Linked DNA regions of Homo sapiens. The protein of the gene in region 2 interacts with the protein of the main gene of each other region in a pairwise test. Each region holds a gene or a part of one and is shown on either strand. Other genes may lie near its edges.

Region 1 (7,063 bases), on a different chromosome or scaffold from region 2:
TTAGCCAGATTACTTATATTAGCAGTATCCGGAATTGTATACTATTTCTGAGGGCAGACATTATCAGCCATGCCAGAAATAAATAAATAGATAAATAAATTCAGTTCTGTGTCCTGGGAGCATGGGTGTTTAGTAGGTACAGAGTCGAATGAGACCCAGTTTCTAATAATGGCTGAAAAGGACCACTTTCCAATCCTCACATTGTACCTAATATGGCTGTCTTTATTTATACATCCCATAGCTTACAGGCCAGAAGCCACCCTAGGAGTAGAAGTCTCTGACTCAAGTGTCAACTGCATTGAACAGACCACAGAGTGGACAGCATGCTCCAAGAGCTGTGGTATGGGGTTCTCCACCCGGGTCACCAATAGGAACCGTCAATGTGAGATGCTGAAACAGACTCGGCTCTGCATGGTGCGGCCCTGTGAACAAGAGCCAGAGCAGCCAACAGATAAGGTAGGAGCCTGGAGGAAACCTCCCATCCTGAAGGTAATGGCCTTGTGTCCTTGGAGCCTGGGCTTCAGAAAGTCACTGTGTCACTCTGTGACGGAGAGAGCAGCTATAGCGGGGAGTTAACCCCAGAGAAAAGGCAGTGGGGTTCTTGAAGCCAGCCTATCTTCTTTTTTCTCTTTAACATATTGAAATACTCTAAGCAACTCACAGTACACCCTCAGGTAAAGAGGGAGAGGGACCGGAAAACTATAATGCTTTTCCCAATAGAGAATGGTCTAGCAAATCCCATTCCATTCCTGGAGAAAACTGGCTACAGTTGTCAAGCACAGCTGATTCTAAAGAGGTCACTTCTGACCTCAGTTCTCTTTATTCGTCAGGTTCTGTATGTATGGGTAGAGGCCATGTGGGTCTTACCTCTCAGTCCTCAGCTTTCTACCTGGCAGATATTGTGTGCGTGATAAACAACTGTTGATAAATAAGCGAGTGACTGTCTGGGAATTATTGTTGGTATTTTTAAAAACCTAGTGGAAATAATACATTTGCCAGCATAAAGCAATATGGGCCAAATAAAACAGCACATATCTTTTTATTTTTTTTTTGTTGGAATTACATCAACTCAGTATGTTAACACTGAATGTGAGACGTGCAGTTCAGAAGCTCTGATTGGTTGCTGATGACATCACAGGCCTTGTTACCAGAGCCCTATATCAGAAAAATGCAATACCCAATTTGAACCATTATATGGATCCTTATACAAACCTAAGACTAAAATAAAACAGCCCTTAGCAATTCAAGATTTACATATCTTGACACTGAAGCAATATCATCTAATGCGTAAGAGGACAACTGTGGAGCCAGACAGCTTGGCTTCAAATTCTGTCTTTCCACATGAACCAGCTATGTAATCTTGGGCAATTTTCTTAACCTCTCAGCCTCAATTCCTTCTCCCACATAATGGGGCGGCTGAAAGTACCTACCTTAACTTGTCACGATGATTACATAGAATGAATTTGCAAAATGCTGGGTATAGATTAAGTACTCTGTTAACAGTAGCCACCATTACTTATGATTTCTATTTACTGGTAAAATAAGAGTCCCTAGTGGTTGCATTAGTTATATGGCTGCTTAGCTATATAATTTTTGGAAGTCCATCCTAACTTTACTTTTCTTCCACCAGTTTAGAAAGAACACCTAGAAACACCTTATCCCTAAAATTATATCCTAGGAGATGCACTTCCCCACGCTCAGAGGAATTCAAACATATATCTAACATAGTCATATAGGTTCACCCACATAAGCAGTCTCACATACAAACACATACACACACATAGGAATGTTGTTATCCTGTACCATTTTGTGGGTGTTGACAAGAATACACGCTAAATATTAAATTGAAAAAGTAAGAAGAAGTCCTTAAATATTTTCAATAGCACAGCAACTTCTTTATTAAACAAGATGTTTCCATTTAATGCCTCTAAGATGTGGCTTTTTCTATTGTGTCATTTTGCAAAATTTGTATTTTTTCTTGTAACTTGAATCTTCTTTAATATTTGGATATGTTATTTTAAAGATGGTTATTTATAGTATACATATTTTATAAAAATTGTACTAGTATAACAATCATTACTTCCTTGTCTCCAAGAGATTCTTAAATCTAAGACAGTGGTTCTTTTTTTTTTTTTTTTTTTTTTTTTGAGACGGAGTCTTGCTCTGTCACCCAAGCTGGAGTGCAGTGGCACAATCTTGGCTCACCGCAAGCTCCGCCTCCCGGGTTCACGCTATTCTCCTGCCTCAGCCTCCTCAGTAGCTGGGATTACAGACGCCCTCCACCATTTTTTTGTATTTTTTAGTAGAGACGGGGTTTCACCATGTTAGCCAGGATGATCTTGATCTCCTGACCTTGTGATCTGCCCGCCTCGGCCTCCCAAAGTGCTGGGATTACCGGCCTGAGCCACCGCGCCCGGCCGACAGTGGTTCTTAAAGGGTGGTCCCCAAACCAGCAGCATCATCTAAGAAGTTGTTAAAATGTAAATTTGTGGTGTGGGTCCCACATCGGATGTACTGAATCCAAAACTCAGGGTGTGAGGTCTGACAGCTTGTTTTAAGAAATCCTCTAGATGATTTTGATGTGCACTGAAGTTTGAGAGCCACTGATTTAAGATAATTCCAAGTCTAATCACCCCACAAGCTGTGGGTCATGCCTATGAAGGTGAACAGTGGATAACTGTAGGAAATTAGTAGATTAAGAAATATAAGTAAGAAATAAAATATAGCCAATTCTTTGCTGAATTATCAACATTGGGCCTCTTCATTTATCATTACTAATACAATCTTGAAAACATTCTCCACTTTATTTGCCTCCATGCAAATTCCATGTCTTGGAATTTCCTGGGTTCATCACGTAATAGAAAGAATGGGCTTTGTACAGACAAATTCAAATATTAGATGTTTTCTGATCCCTTTAGGTCTTTGAGACTCAGTTTCTTCATCTGTAAAACTTGGGCAATTGTTCTTTCTATGAATGATTATTTCTTGTATGAATGAACACTGTTAATAAGGTTGAGTTAATGTTTGAAGAGTATTTGAAACATAAAATAATGCCAGATTTATAAACATTCTTTTTATAACATGTTGTATTAGTCCATTTTCAAACTGCTATGAAGAACTACCCAAGACTGAGTAATTTATAAAGAAAAGATGTGTAATTGCCTTACAGTTACACATGGCTGGGGAAACTTCAGGAAACTTACAATCATGGCAGTAGGTGAAGGGGAAACAAAACACATCTTACATGGCAGCAGGACAGAGAGAGACAGAGAGAGAGAGAGAAAGAGAGAGAGAAAGGCAGAAAGAGAGAGAGAGAGACAGTGAGAGGGGAAGTGCCACACTTTTAAACCATCAGATCTTGTGAGAACTCACTATCACGAGAACAGCAAGGGAAAAATCTGCCCCCATGATCTAATTACCTCCCACCAGGCCCCTCCTCTGACACGTGGTGATTACAATATGAGAAGAGATTTGGGTATGAACACAGAGAACCAAACTGTATCACGTGTAAAAATCCATTTGGCTAAAAATGACACCAAAGCATGTTACAGTGTCTTAAAAGATAGGTTTTGTTATGCTTTCACCTGCATGCTCATCTCCTCAATGTCAAAAGACCATTATGTACAATTAGGCAAGGTGTTTACATTCCAGGAAGAAAGGAAAATGAATACAGGAACAATAAAGAATTGTACCTACTCAAAGGGCAAAGAATTTCCCAGATTCTCTTGGCCAGAACTTTGCCACAAGGTTATCCCAAGTCCCACATAGTCTGTGGAAGCAAATACTTTTAGCTGACTACATTGCTCAAGCAAAATTAATGTTCTGATAGCAAAGAAGAAAGACCAATAGATATTGGGTGGGCAACTAGCAGGTAATTCCATACTCTAAAATTGTCCCTCAGGGGAATGGTAGCCATTCAATACATCACTTCTTTTTTCTTTCTTAGAAAGGAAAAAAGTGTCTCCGCACCAAGAAGTCACTCAAAGCCATCCACCTGCAGTTCAAGAACTGCACCAGCCTGCACACCTACAAGCCCAGGTTCTGTGGGGTCTGCAGTGATGGCCGCTGCTGCACTCCCCACAATACCAAAACCATCCAGGCAGAGTTTCAGTGCTCCCCAGGGCAAATAGTCAAGAAGCCAGTGATGGTCATTGGGACCTGCACCTGTCACACCAACTGTCCTAAGAACAATGAGGCCTTCCTCCAGGAGCTGGAGCTGAAGACTACCAGAGGGAAAATGTAACCTGTCACTCAAGAAGCACACCTACAGAGCACCTGTAGCTGCTGCGCCACCCACCATCAAAGGAATATAAGAAAAGTAATGAAGAATCACGATTTCATCCTTGAATCCTATGTATTTTCCTAATGTGATCATATGAGGACCTTTATATCTGTCTTTTATTTAACAAAAAATGTAATTAACTGTAAACTTGGAATCAAGGTAAGCTCAGGATATGGCTTAGGAATGACTTACTTTCCTGTGGTTTTATTACAAATGCAAATTTCTATAAATTTAAGAAAACAAGTATATAATTTACTTTGTAGACTGTTTCACATTGCACTCATCATATTTTGTTGTGCACTAGTGCAATTCCAAGAAAATATCACTGTAATGAGTCAGTGAAGTCTAGAATCATACTTAACATTTCATTGTACAAGTATTACAACCATATATTGAGGTTCATTGGGAAGATTCTCTATTGGCTCCCTTTTTGGGTAAACCAGCTCTGAACTTCCAAGCTCCAAATCCAAGGAAACATGCAGCTCTTCAACATGACATCCAGAGATGACTATTACTTTTCTGTTTAGTTTTACACTAGGAAACGTGTTGTATCTACAGTAATGAAATGTTTACTAAGTGGACTGGTGTCATAAACTTTCTCCATTTAAGACACATTGACTCCTTTCCAATAGAAAGAAACTAAACAGAAAACTCCCAATACAAAGATGACTGGTCCCTCATAGCCCTCAGACATTTATATATTGGAAGCTGCTGAGGCCCCCAAGTTTTTTAATTAAGCAGAAACAGCATATTAGCAGGGATTCTCTCATCTAACTGATGAGTAAACTGAGGCCCAAAGCACTTGCTTACATCCTCTGATAGCTGTTTCAAATGTGCATTTTGTGGAATTTTGAGAAAAATAGAGCAAAATCAACATGACTGGTGGTGAGAGACCACACATTTTATGAGAGTTTGGAATTATTGTAGACATGCCCAAAACTTATCCTTGGGCCATAATTATGAAAACTCATGATCAAGATATATGTGTATACATACATGTATCTGGTTTGTCAGGCTACAAGGTAGGCTGCAAAATTAAATCTAGACATTCTTTTAATGCCACCACACGTGTTCCGCTTCTCTCTTTTAAAGTATTTATAAAAATATAAATTGTACATTTTGTAAAATATTATGTTTGATTTCTCTACTTGTCATATCACTAAATAAACACGATTTTATTGCTGCGTGACTCTGTATTACTTTGGTGCATAAAAGTTGAACATTGTTGTTTACTGAAAATAAAATTAAAATTTATGAATTAAATGAGACATCAATCAATAGCATCTATTGAAAGCAAAATGAGTATTTCTGGATGAGCTTACAACTTCTTATCAGAAGGGAAACAAAAGACAACTCAGTATTCCTGAGTTAGATGTTCCTCACCATCACAGCCTCAACTAGCCTCCACACTACTTACCCAGACCCTCATCTCAAGCCCTGATCTTTTTTTTTCTGGACAGCCCGCTAGACACCTCTGTATATTGAAATTTAAACTTGTTATCTGACCAAACAAAATTCAGCTCTGTGGCTTCCTCATCTAATCAAAGGGCATCCCATCCTCCCAATTGCACGGCTTAAATGGCCAGCACTTTCTTGATCAGTATTATCTTGCCAAGTACCCAGAAAAGCATATTTCCATTGATCATGGGGAATTGCGTGACAAACTGGGCTGCACACTGGGCAGAGTCACAGTTAATAGAAGTTTTGTGTTTGGAAGCTTCTTGCTGATGCAGTGTGGCTCTCAAGTTCTATAATTTGTAAGGAAAAATCTTTTCAAAAGAGTTTTACTATTACCAACTTCACTTCCTGGGTCTGCCCCCTCCTTTCTGCACCTCTCTTTAGCTAGTTTCTGTTTGTCCTTTAAGATGGATTAGAAAGCAACTTTGCCTTCTAGGAGTTTATTCACACGAAATTATCAAGGACAGCAAACATTTATTGCACAACAGCATTGTGCTGAGAGCTGTACTTGCATTATATTGTTTAATTGGCACAATAGTCCTATGAAGTAGGCATTCTTCATGTACCCATGTTATGGATGAGGAAACCAAAAAAAAAAAAATGTTAAAAGAAACTGGTGGATCTAGAATTCAAACCAAAGTCCTTTTACTTTCTACTTGCTAACATATGGATCCTGGCAAAGATGATCTATCTTCAGACTGTTCTACCATGTGTTGTTCATAAAGGCAAAAAAAAAAATAGAAACAAAGATTCCACAGTGTAGATCTGGCTACATTAATTATAGTATACCCGTTAGGATGAAAAACAAAGCAATCTTCAAACTGAGAATATAAGAAAAGATATCCGAAAATATACCACAGAATGGCATGAAACTAGGAAAAGAGTGATTTGGTTTTGTTCAAAAGTATCTATGAACATGAATCAAAAGAGACCTAGGACAGAACGTGTAACAAAATCTGATTAGTGATTTAGACTAACGTCAGACTAGTCTCATTTTTGTTCTTTTCTGTCATTTCTTTACCAACTTTTTTTTAAAACTGTGAATATACTACCTTTATCACCAGAAAAACAAAAATTAAGGCTGACTTATGTCCCTTCTGGCATAGTTCTTGCACTGCTACTTACTCATATAGAGATGGCTGCTCCTTCCAGCAGCTAAAGCATTTGTTAAGTCATTCACTTTGTTCATTCAAAAACTACTTACTGATTGCTTCTATGTGCCTAGCATTGTTTTAGATCCTGGGAACACAGCCATGAGTAAAATAAACAATAAAAATAAACACGTTCTCTCTTCTTCCTGAAATTTACATAACGCTGTTGGGA
Region 2 (8,574 bases):
TGTAAAATGGGCATCATCTTAGCACCGATCTCACTGGGTCACTGTGTAAAGCAGGTAGATGTATGTCTGGTGAAAGTAAACTCTTAAAGGTGCCAAGCCCCCTAAACCAAACCTAGCTTCACATACCAAAGAGGGGAGAAGGTTTTTATCTTTGAAGCATTCATTCTTTTTCATAGACTACCCCAAAGAAATAACCAAACATGTAGACAGACGTCTATATAAGGATTTTAACCAAAAATTATAAATACAAAATTTTAAAATAACTGAAAACAACCCAAAGGTTCAACAGTGAGAGAGTTATTGAATGTGTAATGATACATTCGTAAAATGAAATGCGACATGGCTTCTATGTATCGCCTGGGGAACTACTAAGATACAATGTTAGGTGACAAGAATTCACACAAACTACATGAACAGCATGCATTTCCATATGGTGAGCGTAAGGTGGATTTTATAATTTATTTCTAAATTTTCAACCTTAAACTTGTATTCATGGCTATAAGTGAATGAATGAATGAATGGCTATAAATGAATGGCTATAAAAATTTGTGTCCTGGGCTGGGCATGGTGGCTCATGCCTGTAATCCCAGCACTTTGGGAGCCCGAGGTGGGTGGATCACCTGAGGTCAGGAGTTCAAGACCAGCCTGGCCAACCTTGTGAAACCCCATCTCTACTAAAAATACAAAAATTAGCCGGGTGTGTTAGTACGTGCCTGTAATCCCAGCTACTTGGTAGGCTGAAGCAGGAGAATCGCTTGAATCTGGGAGGTGGAGGTTGCAGTGAGCCAAGATCATGCCATTGTACTCCAGCCCGGGCAACAAGAGCAAAATTCAGTCTCAAAAAAAAAAAAAAATTTTTTTAAAAATAAAGAATTTGTGTCCCTTCAGAGTGTGTGAGGGAGGATGTTTTTTTCTAACTTTTTAGAAGTGGAAGGGAAGAGGATGAGAGAAGGGAGGATGAGCTGAGGGAGAAGCTATATCTAGGAAACAGCATTTCTGCCGTAAGCGCTGGACCAAGTACCAAATGTAGAGAAGAGATGCAAAGGAATGTATTGGCTTCCCTAGGGCTGCTGTCAGAAAGCACCACAAACCAGGTGGCTTCAAACAACAGACATTTAGTGTCTCACAGTTCTGGAGGCTGGAAGTCAAAAATCCCAGTGCCAGTAGGGCGCACTTCTGCTGCAGGCTCCAGGGAGACCATCTGTGCCTTTTGCAGCCTCGGTGGCTTCTGACAGCACGACTCTAATTTCTGCCTCTGTCTGCGTGCAGCCTTCTTTGCTGTGTCTCTCTCTGTCACCTCCTCTTCTTATAATGACATCAGTGATGGATTTCAGGGCCACCCTGAATCCAGGATAATTTCACCCGGAGAAATGTATACATGTGCCATGTTGGTGTGCTGCACCCATTAACTCATCATTTAACATTAGGTATAACTCCTAATGCTATCCCTCCCCACTCCCCCCACCCCACAACAGGCCCCGGTGTGTGACGTTCCCCTTCCTGTGTCCATGTGTTCTCATTGTTCAATTCCCACCTAGGAGTGAGAACATGCGGTGTTTGGTTTTTTGTCCTTGCGATAGTTTGCTGAGAATGATGGTTTCCAGCTTCATCCATGTCCCTACAAAGGACACGAACTCATCCTTTTTTATGGCTGCATAGTATTCCATGGTGTATATGTGCCACATTTTCTTAATCCAGTCTAGCATTGTTGGACATTTGGCTTGGTTCCAAGTCTTTGCTATTGTGAATAGTGCCGCAATAAACATATGTGTGCATGTGTTTTTATAGAAGCATGTTTTATAATCCTTTGAGTATATACCCAGTAATGGGATGGCTGGGTCAAATGGTATTTCTAGTTCTAGATCCCTGAGGAATCGCCACACTGACTTCCACAATGGTTGAGCTAGTTTACAGTCCAACCAACAGTGTAAAAGTGTTCCTATTTCTCCACATCCTCTCCAGCACCTGTTGTTTGCTGACTTTTTAATGATCGCCATTCTAACTGGTGTGAGATGGTATCTCATTGTGGTTTTGATTTGCATTTCTCTGATGGCCAGTGATGATGAGCATTTTTTCATGTGTCTTTTGGCTGCATAAATGTCTTGTTTTGAGAAGTGTCTGTTCATATCCTTCGCCCACTTTTTGATGGAGTTGTTTGTTTTTTTCTTGTAAATTTGTTTGAGTTCATGTAGATTCTGGATATTAGCCCTTTGTCAGATGAGTAGATTGCAAAAATTTTCTCCCATTCTGTAGGTTGCCTGTTCGCTCTGATGGTAGTTTCTTTTGCTGTGCAGAAACTCTTTAGTTTAATGAGATCCCTTTGTCAATTTTGGCTTTTGTTGCCGTTGCTTTTGGTGTTTTAGACATGAAGTCCTTGCCCATGCCTATGTCCTGAATGATATTGCCTAGGTTTTCTTCTAGGGTTTTTATGGTTTTAGGTCTAACATTTAAGTCTTTAATCCATCTTGAATTAATTTTTGTATAAGGTGTAAGGAAGGGATCCAGTTTCAGCTTTCTGCGTGTGGCTAGCCAGTTTTCCCAGCACCATTTATTAAACAGGGAATCATTTCCCCATTTCTTGTTTTTGTCAGGTTTGTCAAAGATCAGATAGTTGTAGATATGCGGCATTATTTCTGAGGGCTCTGTTCTGTTCCATTGGTCTATATCTCTGTTTTGGTACCAGTACCATGCTGTTTTGGTTACTGTAGCCTTGTAGTATAGTTTGAAGTCAGGTAGCGTGATGTCTCCAGCTTTGTTCTTTTGGCTTAGGATTGACTTGGCAATGTGGGCTCTTTTTTGGTTCCATATGAACTTTAAAGTAGTTTTTTCCAATTCTGTGAAGAAAGTCATTGGTAGCTTGATGGGGATGGCATTGAATCTATAAATTACCTTGGGCAGTATGGCCATTTTCATGATATTGATTCTTCCTACCCATGAGCATGGAATGTTCTTCCATTTGTTTGTATCCTCTTTTGTTTCATTGAGCAGTGGTTTGTAGTTCTCCTTGAAGAAGTCCTTCACATCCCTTGTAAGTTGGATTCCTAGGTATTTTATTCTCTTTGAAGCAATTGTGAATGGGAGTTCACTCATGATTTGGCTCTCTGTTTGTCTGTTATTGGTGTGTAAGAATGCTTGTGATTTTTGCACATTGATTTTGTATCCCGAGACTTTGCTGAAGTTGCCTATCAGCTTAAGGAGATTTTGGGCTGAGACAATGGGGTTTTCTAGATATACAATCATGTCATCTGCAAACAGGGACAATTTGACTTCCTCTTTTCCTAATTGAATGCCCTTTATTTCTTTCTCCTGCCTGATTGCCCTGGCAAGAACTTCCAACGCTATGTTGAATAGGAGTGGTGAGAGAGGGCATCCCTGTCTTGTGCCAGTTTTCAAAGGGAATGCTTCCAGTTTTTGCCCATTCAGTATGATATTGGCTGTGGGTTTGTCATAGATAGCTCTTATTATTTTGAGATACGTGGCAAGGACCTTCTTGCTGTGTTATCCCATGACAGAAGGCAGAAGGCAGAAGGGCAAGAGGGCGTGTGCGAGAGAGGTGAAGGAAGGAGGCTGAACTCTACTACTACCCTCAATACTCACACCAATTTACCTTCTTCTGGTCACCAAAATATGTGAGTTTTTTTCCCTACACCAAGCAATTCTCCACTTCTTTATGAGAACAAACTTGGCATCCTACAGTTTAACTCAATTCTGACACTATCTCCTTGGAGATACTATCAGATCCCCCAGGTTAAGGGCTCAGTCCCATAAGACTGCCCCTACTTCAGACACCAGTTGTAAGTGGTGGGTCCCCAGGTTGCCCACAACTTTTGTCCAACTTGGTGACACATGGAAGGTTTCCACAACTCCCTCCTCAGTTTCAATAATTTGCTAGAACAGCTTGCAAAACTCAGGGAAACACTTATTTACAATGACTAGTTTATTATAAAGGATCCAACTCAAGAATGGCCAGACGGAATTGATGCACAGGGCAAGATATGGGGGAAGAGACATGGAGTTCCCATGCCCTCTCTGGGCACACCACCCTCCAGGTACCTCCATGTGTTCACCAACCCAGAAGCTCTCTGAACCCTGTCCTTTTGGGTTTCTATGGAGGCTTCCTTACACAGGCATGATGGATTAAAGAAACTATGGGCCATTTGTGGTTAACTCAATCTCCCGTCTCTCTCCTCTCCTGGAACTCAAGGGGTAGGGCTGAATATTCCAACCCTCAAATCACATGGTTGTTTCCCCAGACAAGCAGCCCCCCATCCTTGGAGGCTTTCTAAAGTCACCTCATTAACATAAACTCGGGTGTGGCTAAAAGGGGTCGGTTATGGTTAAGAAAAGATGCTCTTTTCACCTTTACTGCTCTCATCGCTCAGGAAATTCCAAGGGTTTTAAGAGCCCTGTGCCAGAAATGGGGATAAGAACTCTCTCTCTCTCTCTCTCTATATATATATATATGTATATATACACACACACACATACACACACATATATATACACACGTATATGTAATTATATATCTATATATAATTATAAATCACAATATCACAACATATTATGTTCTTGGGAATACAATTTGTACAAAGGGGCCTTGTAAATTACTGCTTTGTTTGGTGAAAATGATCCTTTAATCATTACAGTCTATGTGGTCATAATTGTGAGAGAACAGAATAAGCTACCCCCAGATATGCCTCTTTGGCATAGGGATTATTGAGGCGAAGGCAATTAAGAAGCAGCAGATGCAGGAAGGTTCTCTGTCCTCTCTCTATTTGCCTAAAAGCAAGATCTAAATTTACAAAGGTCTTTCTATCAAGGAGAATAAAGGTTAACCACTGAGAACTTTAGACCCTTATAGGCCTGGAGATGGTACCAGAGGAAGCTGCGTAACAAAACTTACTGACTAGTTTCTTTCTATCCTTCATTTCCTATTTATTTGTCTACCCACAATTTGGTGGCCCTCAAGATGCAAAGTCTTTTTTCTTCATCTTGTCCCTTCTCTAAAATTGTATAGTTCTTTGTTGAAGGTGGCTATATAAGCAGGGAGTTCCAAGCCACTCCTTTGAGAATTATTTATTCCCTGGTGTCTCCTACATACACTTAAGAGGTACATATTAATCCACTCCTGTTTGTTTTTCTCTTATGAATCTGTCTTGGGTTACAAGGATCCTAGCTGAGAACTTAGAAGGGCAGAGGGAAAATTATTTTTTCCTCTCTTATAATATCCATCTAAGGAATCACTTACCCAGGTCAAGATGGAGAAAAGGAGATTTCCTTGTACTTCCTCCTCCCAGTCAATAATCGCACTACCCGAGAAGAAACCTCGATTCTGACTTCTACAACCAATTCATTTGCATATTATTGAGTTTCATATAAATGGAGCCATTTGTTTGATTTCTTTCACTCAATAATAATGTCTGTGAAATTATTCCATGTTGTTTGGGTATCAGTAGTTTTCAAAATTGTTATTGCTATGTAATATTTAACTATATAAAAAAACTATAATTTGTTTGTTTATTCTTCTGTTGATTGATGTATTTGAGTTGTTACCAGCCCTTGGCTATGTATGGGAGGAAAAGTAATTTTTTTCTCAACCCTCATAAGTTCTTAGCTGGAACAGACTCCTGTAACCCAAGACACATTAACGAGAGAAAACCAAGCAGAAGCGTATTAACATGTCTATTTCATATGGACATGGGAGAGATCCAGGGATTAAATAATTCTCAAAGAGGTAGCTTTGAATTCCAGCTTCAATACATCTCCAACAATGAACAGTACATTTTTAGAGAAGTAGCAAGACAATGGAAAAGGGTTTTGAGTCTCCAGCAGGAGCAACTTGTGGGAAAGTAAGTCAATGTCATCTTTGGTGATCAAACTTTATCCTTCTTGTTAGTGAGGAGACAAGGGACAGCTTTACCTTTGTCAATTTATGTCTTGCTTTTAGGCAAATAGAGGGAGGGTGGAGAACTTTTCTTGTACCCACTTCTTCTCAATTACATTTGGCTCAAAATAATCCTTATGCCAAAGTGGCATATTTTGGGATGGTGTATACTGCTACCCTCCAATATAGAGGTAAAAATGTATTGAACTGACTATTTCACTGTATGCATTTATTGTATGTAAGCTACACCTCAACATACAATTTTCAAATAATAGTTTGCAAATATTTAGTATGCTATGTGGTTGTTATTTTGATAGTACATAATCCAAAATCCCTCCACACCTGAATTTCATAAGGTTTCATCATATGTGCAGTAACGTTGTTTTTCTACATTCCTGACCAGAAAATCATTTGACTCCTGGGGACACAGATTTGCTGCCACAGAGGCTGATGGACAACCAGGCGGAGAGAGAAAGTGAGGCTGGTGTTGGTTTGCAAAGGTAATCCAAAGGGTGTAGTCCCCAGGGAGAGGGCTGATTCTGTTGAAATGCTGCAGGCATCCTCACGATAAGGAATACATGTGCTCTGATAGGATTAGCTGTTAAGTGGGCCTTATCTTACCGCTGGTCTCCATTATGCATATGAAAATCTGTTCCCCTAGGGAAAAAAATACTTCATGGAGCTAAAGTAAATATTTTGGAGAGCAAGTCAAGATTAAGTCAGGCGCATGGCTTTGGGCAATAGGACTCCAAAGACAAAAATTGCTCCACTCTGGGGCCTCATCTCTGCAACTGTCTTGAAGACAGGAACTCCATTTCTTCAGCTCATATATCACCAAGGAAGGAAGCCATTTGGTGTTAACAAATTAATGAATTTAAGCCCAGTTGTCTGTAAATCAGCAGACGTAGCACCACCGGCCCCCTGCACAATGTGTGCAAGTAACAAATATTTGCTGAGTGAATTAGACGAACTCTATGTGTAATATGTCATGGAACTGGACTGAAATGTTATCCAATGCCAGTAGACATCACCAGCTGATACAGGATTCACTGGAGCAGAGGTGTTCACATGTGAGACGCTTGGTTTAATTAAGAAACACATGAAGTCAAGCTTCTGTTAGTTATCAACCATGCTAAAACCAAAAACTTTACAGTTCATACACAGTGGCGTTGTTGATCTTTGCAGCTACATATCTATTTGCTGTTTCTTTTTGTCTAGCATACCTTGAGGAAACACAGAGATCAGGGTGGGCTAACCTATGGCATCTTTTATGTCTGGGGTTCTTTGTCAGGGCCACCCCGCTTGCCTTCATCCCACCCCTTCCCCATTGCAAGCCCTGGTGACCTTCTGCTCTGTTAACTGATTTACACCTGTGGATTAATAGATAATTGTGCCTAAATTTATTAATTCATTAACACTTAAAACATATGCTCGATGGTATATTTAGTTTCTAATCTTTCCCACTGAGGAATTGTGTGCGTGTGTGTGTGGAAAGAGAGATTTAAAGATAAATACATTTATGGACATACATATACTTCAATGAGGAGGCCCTGACATCAACTGACAGGTGAGAGGAAAGGCAGAAAGCACCAAGTTTAGGACTCAGAGCCCACCCAATGCTCCATCTTTACCTTGCATGTTCCTTTGGGAGTGTCCTCTTTTCTCTCTGGGCTTGAGGCCCCCCACTGAATCATAAAGGAGGTGGCCCAGATCCTCTCCAGGCCTCCCTCCAGCTCTGATGTTCTTCTTTGGGCCAGGGCATCTGTTATCACCAGGCCTCCTCGGCTCACCCTGAAGGAAATGCACAAATGGCACCTTGCATGAGAAAATGCCCCAAGCAGCAGGCTTTGCTCTCACCCTGATGCAGCTCTGCCTTGAAGGTCAAAGCCAACTGGCCTGGCAAAGATCCCTTCGTACTTCATCCTGTAAAATGTTGGAGGAAGAGGGGCCTAGGTCTCTTTGTCCCAAACTTCTTCCATGAAGGACTAATCCCATCTGCTTGAAGGGTCAAGTAAAGCTGACCAAGAGCAAGGAGAGCATTCAGGACATGAATAATAATTTATCTCAACTCTCAATGTGCAACTCCTGATAGAAGCAAAGACACACCCCAGAGTAACCAGATTCGAGGTCATTAGAGTGGAGGATGTATGATGCAATATGGCCCCCTCCACCCTCCTACTCACTTCTACACATCTGGGACGCTCATCCCCTGCCCACCACCTTGTCTTCTCTTTCTCCTACTTTTCCCAGAACTCTCCCGCCATTGTTCCCAAGTTCTTTATCTTGAGTGGGGTTTTAACATTTCCCCACTGCCCCTCCTCTGCAGCAGTGCTGTGCTTTCTCTGAACAAGGCTGAAAACATACCTCAGGACTTAATTTTCCTTCCCCATTCCTTGACCAAGGCTGGGGTGATTCACATTTGTCCTTCCACATGCCCCTCTTATGTGTTTCTTTTTTCCATGGAACCAGTAGTTTTCAGCGAAGGCTGAACTACTCTACAATGCTCTAGGACTTTTCAGGGGATTTTGTAGGGAGGTACAGGGAGGATTCGAAGCTGAGAGTGGCAAGAATATCCAAGAGCCACATGGGTTTTCCCATCTGGGAAGCTGAAGCAAAATCTTTATTTCATTTCTCCTCAGGGATGAGGATGACGCTCCTCTGTGTGAAGACGTGGAGCTACAAGACGGAGA
Region 3 (8,574 bases), on a different chromosome or scaffold from region 2:
AAAATGAAGTAAAAAAATTACAACCAAGTGAATAGTCATTATTTTACACATAAATATCCAGTGAAGGTATTGGATACAATGGAATTTTACTATTCTCTATAAAGGGTACAGCTTCCTAGCATTTGTTCTCAAATTCTTCAGTTCTCAAGAAGAGTGAGACTATGTTCATCCTATTCATGCTCTTTAAATTCTCAATCACATTCATTTTCCCCATTAGGTAAAATTTAAAAAATTCTAATTTAATAGATTGGTCTGTAACTCATCGATCATTTTAATGCGTTTTGTTGGGTTATCTTCACCTTGTTTTCTTAAACTGCTGTAATGGGAGCAAGATGTAGCACTCAGATAACATTTAATTTTCCTGTCTCCAAAAAAAAAAAAAAAAAATCACTTACCCATACACTGTCTCATTTGAACTAGAAAATAACATTGTAAGATGGAGAAAGCATATATTATCTCCATTATACAGATATGGAAACCAGGATTCAGAGAAATCACTTTTCCCAAGACATGGAAAAAAGACAGTGAAACTGGGCCACAAGTTCAAGATTTTTGGCTCTAAATCTACTATTCCTCTTAAATTAAGGTATGGTAATTAAATTAATTTTTTAAAATTAAGGATTAAAGTGATATTTAAGGTCATTAAACACACCTGTATTGGCACTGCTGCTGGCTATGAAACTCACCACCAAAGGTAAACGATTAAATTGAACCACCTAAAAAGAAAATAAGAGCCAAATAATATGTTGCATTATGAAAAGGTAGTATAACTAAACTGAAATGTCTTAATCTTTCAAAAACTTTAAAATCATCAATGTTTTAGCCCAACATTATGGTATTATATTATGAAACAGAAAGGAACTTTATATTTCAGTGAATATTTCCATAAAACAGAATTAGTGATGATCTCTTAGAGACATTAATACCATTTGGCCTGGAAAGTTTTTAAGGTGAAACCATATCTTCATCTTTTTATCTCTAAAGCCCAACAGAATATCAATTACATTGTAAGGACTTAATAAATAGTTGATAATTAAATGGATAAATGCAGTATTTCTCAGTTATTCAAGTAGTTTTATCTTCATGATATTTTCTGGTTCTTGTGTATTACTGTAATTTAAATTAAATTTAAAGTAACTTTAAATCAACTACCTTCAAAAAAAAAGAAAACTTAGTTTAAACCTAATCCTTATTGATGAAATTAAAGGTCAGATGGTTTGGTTATCTTTTACTTAATACACATTAAAATATATAACTTTTAAAATAAAAGATGGGCCTGGCACGGTGGCTCACATCTGTAATCCCAGCACTCTGGGAGGCTGAGGTGGATGGATCACTTGAGGCCAAGAGTTCAAGACCAGCCTGGCCAACATGGTGAAAGTCCGTCTCTACCAAAAATACAAAAATTAGCCAGGCCTGGTGGCACATGCCTGTAATCCCAGCTACTTGGGAGGCTGAGGCGTGAGAATCACTTGAACCTGAGAGGCGGAGGCTGCAGTGAGCTGAGATCATGCCACTGCACTCCAGCATGGGGCAACAGAGCCAGACTCTGTCTTGGAAGAAAAAAAAAAAAAGAGTAACTTACATCAATTGATTAGGAAACATCGCTCTAAAGCACAAGGAATTAATTTAGTCTTAAGAAAATGTAGCTTGAGATCAAGAGACATGCAAAAACTAAAAACTAACTTCTTTCCCACAAATAATAATCTCATTTATTACATATATATATTTCCAAAAAATGAAGGAATTAGCAGCAAGAGCAAATTTAATAAACTTTCAAGGAAAGTTTTTTTTATCTGTTACTACAACAAAAAAAGTGTGTCAGCTGAGAAATCACAGTTGTTTAGCTAACGGCACCATCTACTGGAGGTAACAGTGACCTGACATACTCTTTTTAGGATAACATGTACTTTATTAAATCACTTAATTACTTTTCCATAGTAATTATTTCCTGGTATGAAATGTGAAGAAAATTACTACATTTTAATACAACCAATTTGAAGGCTAAAATTTTACAATTTCATCCTCTTCAAAACTAAAATTGAGAACTATAACACAAACTATTTTATATATATAAAAGGCACAAAAATGACAACTGAAATCAGCAAATCATTTTATAATTATGAACTTACCTGGTAGGTGTTATAGTAACAGATGATACTTTTATTTTTGGAAAGTCCAAGTTTGCTTCCTTGGTCTGTTGCAAGGGCAAAAGTGGATAAGAAACCAGGTCGCAAAGCATGCTCTGGAGCATTGTCATTTGCCACTAGAAAAATAAGTGATTTAAATAAAAATTATGCAGAGGATATGGTAGAGAGATTTACAGCCCTTTTTTTTCATAAACCTCTTTTTAAAATTGAACACAAAGGTTATGTTTCACAATATTGAAAATCATATCACTAATGGGGTCTCATCACTAATCAGGAAAAACTGCTCAATCAAAAGTTCACTGATCACAAGTAAGAGAAAAAATGCTGACTCTCACAATTTTTTTAAATTTTAAAAAGAAAACTAAATGTTTACATTTTCTTGATATCTAACTTAAAACAGATTAATCAAGTACATTTAACTGGTTATCTGAGGACTAGGCTAGAATAAACTAATGAAAAAAGTTACAAAACTTCTGCTCTTATAAAACCCACAGCAGCAGTATCTCTCATAGATATTAACAATCTGCAGCTGGTTACCTGTTTCATGTTTCTCTCACTCATTAAAAGGTTTGCATGGAGTTTGTTATATTAATGAGTGCAGGGCTCAAGGCTTTAACACAGAGATCCTCATGAAGAATATTAGAGCTGGAAAATCTGAGATTATTTTGTTCAAATCCCTCATTACGGAATTAAGAGAAGGCAAGCAATCTGTCCACAGCCATTCAACAGCCATTTTATAGTGGGTTAGAAAGCACACTGGACCACACATCAGGAGATTATGGGTTCTATTACTGTTTTGTTACTGACTCATGTCCGACTTTGGACGGCAATGTCCGAAGATTATAAACCACAGGACCTCCTTTGTTCTTATAATGTGTTTGCCAAAATTCTCCCAGAAATGGAATCAATGTGTATTACAGAAATGTTTATAATCTTTACAAATTCATGCAGTTTATTAATAAGAATCTAAGACATAGCTAACTCTCCATTAAAACTGCTAAGAAGTCCAAGTGTCTTTGCACTTTATCACCTTCACTTATAAAATGAAAGAACTACATTAGTTGACTTCTAAACCTCCTTTCATTTCTAAAGTCTAAAATTATCTGATATATATGACAACTCCAGGTGGAAAATTGTAAACAAAATATACAGAACATTATCCAATCTTTAATCTTTGATAAAGCCACTATAGTGTCCCAATAAAACTAGGAACATCCATTCTCATAATACCATAATATAGAAATAGTAAAAATTGTCTGAATCCATACTGACTCTCTGTGACATCATGTTTACTTATGATCCAAATACATGGGTATTATCCTAAAACAACTAGCAATTTGATAAAATGTGTGTGTGGTATGTATATATATACACACACACATATATATATAGTAGGGGTGTCTGTGTGTATATCTAGCTGAATACATGCTCACTCTCATCACTTAGATTTACTAATGGTTTACGTTACACTGTAAATGTCTTTAATGGGAAATGGGTCTGTGATAAATCCATGCTTAAACTCTAGATGTTAATATGATACATGTGATATATAATACATTGTAGATTCAAATTCAACCTTCAACATACAAAAGCAAACACTTTCCCCAATACTAAGACCATCTCCCAAATTTACTAAAATGAATTTTATGTTTGCCTGCTGTACTACTCAGATGTAAATTACACACATTTTTAGTCAAAAGCAAAGAAGACATTTGCATTTAAATGTTCAGTTTTACCTTTAATAACAGGTACTCCATCTCTATCTGACACAACAATGGCATGGAGCCCTTCAACACTAGAAAAAGAAAATAGTTAAAATATAAAAAAAGTTAAAATATAAAATTTTAAAAAGTTAAAATATAAAATATTTCATTTTCTCAAACTATGCACCTCAAAGACATAATAATTCTCATGTATTTTCTGAAAAACCACAGACCCCAAAATTCTCCCAGAAATTGAATCAATGTGTATTATAGAAATGTTTATAATATTTACAAGTTCATGCAGTTTATTAATAAGAATCTAAGACATAGATAACTCTCCATTAAAACTACTAATGAATGATCAGTCCATGGTACACAAAAGCATGAAAGATTATCAGCAGGGGCTATAGTGACAAAAAACAGCCTTTTTCCTTTTTCATTCATGCAAATATTAAGCGGCCAGTATTTGTGGCACTTAATACTTTGATACTATGAAAAACAGAAATAAGCACAATCATTGCCTTCACATGGCTTCCAATGTAAAAAGTGAATGTGTTACCAATAAAATAATCTCACAATAACAAACGTAAAACTAAAACTGGTGGCAAGTGTTGTTAAAAAGTTCATAGGGATATGAGAACCTAGAAAAGAGGAGGCTGATGCAGACAGACAGTGGGCCAGAGAAGGCTTTCCTGGAGGCAGTAATACATCAGCTGAGACGTTATGGCACTAAGTGAAAAGACGTGGAAAAACTGTTCCTGGCTGAAGAAACAGGGCAAAAGGAATGCAGGCTATGCAGTAATCCTTTCAGCCATGCTTACGTAAGAAGTAGTAAGCAGAACGGTCAAGCTATAGCTCTAAAGTTAGAAAGATCTGGGTTCCAGTCCAGGCTCTGCCACTTATTATTTATGCTATCTTGGGCTAGTTATGAAACCTTTACAAGCCTCAGATTAACAATTTGAAAATGGGAATAACTGTACTTACTTAGATACTGTGAAATTTAATAATACAAGGCATGTAAAGTGTAGGCTGGCACATAATTCAAAAATATCACTTATTAACTAATACCAGTGGTGTCAATTGTGCACACTGACAATGACATAATTTATCACTAAAGTACTAAGTTATCAGTGAGAATCCCTGGGAAATTAGCAATTAAGAAACATATGGTAGAGCACAAATATACTGTGTTAAAAAATATAAGGTGACACTCCTCGACTTTCAACATTTATGCAAAACCCTTTCATTGTTAACATAAATCTTATAGTCCTGTAACTATCTTATGGTATCTATAAACTACAACTCAGAGATATGTTCAATGTCCCTACAGCAACCCGGAATGATCTATTCTTTGTGTTAACTTTAATGTATTAACTAAGGAATAAGAAATACTTATATTAACCTAATGTTTAAATACTGACATTAAATTTTTTAAAATCCCATTGTCAAAAACTTTTAAGTCAGAAAAGTGTTATTAAATATGAATGGAAAATGTTACAAACAAAATCATTTGTCTTCCTTACATTAAAAATAAGAATAAAATAACTTTATAAATGACTTTTATACTATTTTTATCCTATTATTGGCATGATTTCCTAATCATTCAATCCTAAACTTATTTATAGATTAAAATATATCTCTAAGATTAATACATAACATAGGCCGGGCACAGTGGCTGACGCCTGTAATCCCAGCAATTTGGGAGGCCAAGGTGGGCAGATCACCTGAGGTCAGGAGTTTGAGACCAGCCTGGCCAACATGATGAAACCCCGTCTCAGCCAAAAACACAAAAATTAGCTGGGTGTGGTGGTGCTTGTCTGTAATCCCAGCTACTTGGGAGACTGAGGCATAAGAATCGATTGAACCTGGGTTGCAGTGAGCCAAGATTGCGCCACTGCACTCCCAGCCTGGGTGACAGAACGAGAGTCTGTCTCAACAACAACAACAAAAAGATTAATACATAAAATAAATATATTCTTCTAAGTTAAAAACTAGGTTATATAAAACATATACTACAGATATTTGTACATAAGCCAATTATTTTGTGCAGTTACCAAAAGCAACATCATTTGAAACAGTAAAGCATTACAAATCCAACTGTCCATCAAGAAGGACAAGGTAAGTTATGATATACACCTACAAAGGAATACTCTGGAATACTCTGCAGCCATGAGAAAGAGGAAGTTCTCTATGTACCAGGAAAGATTACTCTCAAAGTTACATTCTTAAGTGAAAAAATACACAGTTTAGAACAGTGTATAGAAGAAGCAATAAATTATGTACCAAAATATGCAGGCATATGTGTATGTTGTGTGTATAAATACGTGTATATACATGTCTGCTCATAGGTACATAAAATATCTCTGTAGGTAATGGTGGGTGCCTCTTTGAGGGGAAACTGTGCATGTGGCTGGAGAGGAAGGATGGGCAGCTTCTCACTCTATGTTCTTCAGTTAAGTCTTGAATCTGAACTCTGTGAATGTACTACTTACCCCCAAAATAAATTAAAAAGCAGGTAAAAAGAGGACCACAAAAATGTTTAGAAAAATTAGTGCCACCACAGGTAGCTTCTTTTTTTAAATTTCCATGGAAATTACTTTAAATACAACTAATGCTCCAAAGAAAATAAAAGGACTTTCTTTTTGATGGACTTCACAGAGAAATGAATCAAGAAAGTAGAAAAATTACTTACACTCTTAAGTATATAATTTTAGAAATCAGGTCACAAATATAAAAGCTGTTTTCAATTCTACATACAATGCGCAAAGAGTAATATAAATAGAATTTACTAATAATTAAAAATAACTGGCTCATTAAGAGATACTACACTTTTAGAAGAAATGAATTAAATTTTGTGAAATATTCTGAAGAAATCTAAACCTTAAGCTTACTAAAACAACCATTTTTTTCTAAAAACAAATGTTGCATTACTAATCAAAGACATCGGATTTAGTTTTATACACATAATTATGAAATATTTGGTTGTTTTAAAACATACAAAGTGGGATTATTAAAGCCTGAGACTGCTTTGGGTCACAACCAGATTTTAAATTGCAAATACAAGAACGATATTTTGCAGAGAATTCAAAAAACGCACAAAAACACACATTCCATTAGTATCCGTAGCTGGCTGACTTTGTTACTGAGAGGCACTGAGGTACAACAGTTAAAAGCATGAATCCATGGCTCTGAAGCAGGATGCCTGCATCCAAACCCATACATCTAGCAACAAATCAAAGCGTATATTCTACTATTCTTCATAAATGTTCAAAACATTATTATTTCTTCATTATTACTGTTCTGGGATGCAATAAGCCTATTTTCAATAAATGATATAATGAGTTGAACTGGCTTTTTTTCATTATTAAAAAAAAAACTGACAGTACTAATACCTTTCCTGCCATTATGAAAGATTTTCATAAAGCTTTTAACAAATATCCTTTAACTGAATTTATTTCTTGGATAAGCACAACAACCTGATATTTCCCCTTTTGTTAAAAGATAAGAGACATCTAAATTCAAAGAAGAAGCAAGCATTTACTTTCCAACTATTTTTGATCAACATTAGAACTACTCAGTAATATAATAAATACTTTTGGTATTATTCTCTAATTCCTTTACACAGACAGCTTCATCATATCCAGTGTCACACGCTATTATGATTTTGAGAGCACACTTAATAGTTAAAATGAGATCCCCATTGTCTGAAACATTTTTATTGCTTATAATCACAGATGATGTAATTAGAATCAATTATTGCTTTATTAGATCTCCAGGTGACTAATGAGTATCTTTCTGGTCGGTTTATAACTTAAGAACATTGAATGCAATTTTGCTGTTTCTTCAATAAGAGATGCTAACACTCAAAAGAGGACTGTAAATCACTAAGACTTCTAAGTGAATTAACTATGTACTATTAACTATTTCATCATATCACCAGCGTAGTGGGGTATCTCTCCGTCCCAATTTGAGCGCCCTTTCATTACGCTAAGGTAACTACAGAAAAACACAGAAAGCCCTCATTTTGCATAGTTCCAATATGCACATTTTAGTTACTATGGTTAAGTAATACCACTCCCTGCAGAAGAGCACAGGTCAAATTTTAGTTAGCATGGCATAATACCTCAATAACTACGTAAAGTATAAACTTTTCTAACTCTTTAGTCCACAAATCACTACATAAATAATTATGTAATTAACAGATGCACACTGTCATCAGTAACCAGCCACATCATTTCTTTCAAAGTATGTTGATGGTTGGTCACTGTGCATCTGTTATGCAGCTCATGCAGAGATAGCAAAGCATGTAGTTTTGTACCTCCTTGTCTCCCAATGATAAAGTATGTGACATTTAGAAAAAGAGATAATAAAAAGAGGAAACTGGCCAACAAAGACGAAATACAGCAAAGAAATGAAAAGTAATAATGCTGAAATTTCAAATAGAAATGCTGAATTTCAAATAGAAAGTAAAGAATTATAGAAGAAACAGATGACCAAGGGAATGCTGACACTATCGCTCTAGATACACAGAGAACTCAGTGAAGGCAAACTTATTGACATAAATGAGGAAAGCGGTTGTGACGAAAATTTTCCAGAGGACGTGAGGCTGGCAAAAAATATTCATATTAAAGGAAATCTCAGAGATACTTCACAACATGGAAAATACAGACAAAATGCTTCATAAAATTAACATATGGCATATAGAATTTATTCAATAACAA

What was found. Proteins that work in one complex are often made in the same cells at the same time.
Region 1: the proteins of APOL6 (region 2) and CCN3 interact in binary tests that used the Homo sapiens proteins (3 or more experiments, as listed by UniProt).
Region 3: the proteins of APOL6 (region 2) and LAMTOR3 interact in binary tests that used the Homo sapiens proteins (3 or more experiments, as listed by UniProt).

The regions. Positions count from the first base shown.
Region 1 is NC_000008.11:119,418,890-119,425,952, forward strand, and holds the end of CCN3 (CCN family member 3 precursor), read left to right. Parts: intron 1-241; coding exon 242-456; intron 457-3,946; coding exon 3,947-4,243; 3' UTR 4,244-5,545; downstream 5,546-7,063. UniProt on the Homo sapiens protein: Immediate-early protein playing a role in various cellular processes including proliferation, adhesion, migration, differentiation and survival. Acts by binding to integrins or membrane receptors such as NOTCH1.
Region 2 is NC_000022.11:35,650,092-35,658,665, forward strand, and holds part of APOL6 (apolipoprotein L6), read left to right. Parts: intron 1-3,512; exon of another isoform or gene 3,513-3,629; intron 3,630-6,287; 5' UTR 6,288-6,334; coding exon 6,335-6,384; intron 6,385-8,523; coding exon 8,524-8,574. UniProt on the Homo sapiens protein: May affect the movement of lipids in the cytoplasm or allow the binding of lipids to organelles.
Region 3 is NC_000004.12:99,883,410-99,891,983, forward strand, and holds part of LAMTOR3 (ragulator complex protein LAMTOR3), read right to left. Parts: intron 3,946-8,574; coding exon 3,887-3,945; intron 2,267-3,886; coding exon 2,133-2,266; intron 717-2,132; coding exon 653-716; intron 1-652. UniProt on the Homo sapiens protein: As part of the Ragulator complex it is involved in amino acid sensing and activation of mTORC1, a signaling complex promoting cell growth in response to growth factors, energy levels, and amino acids.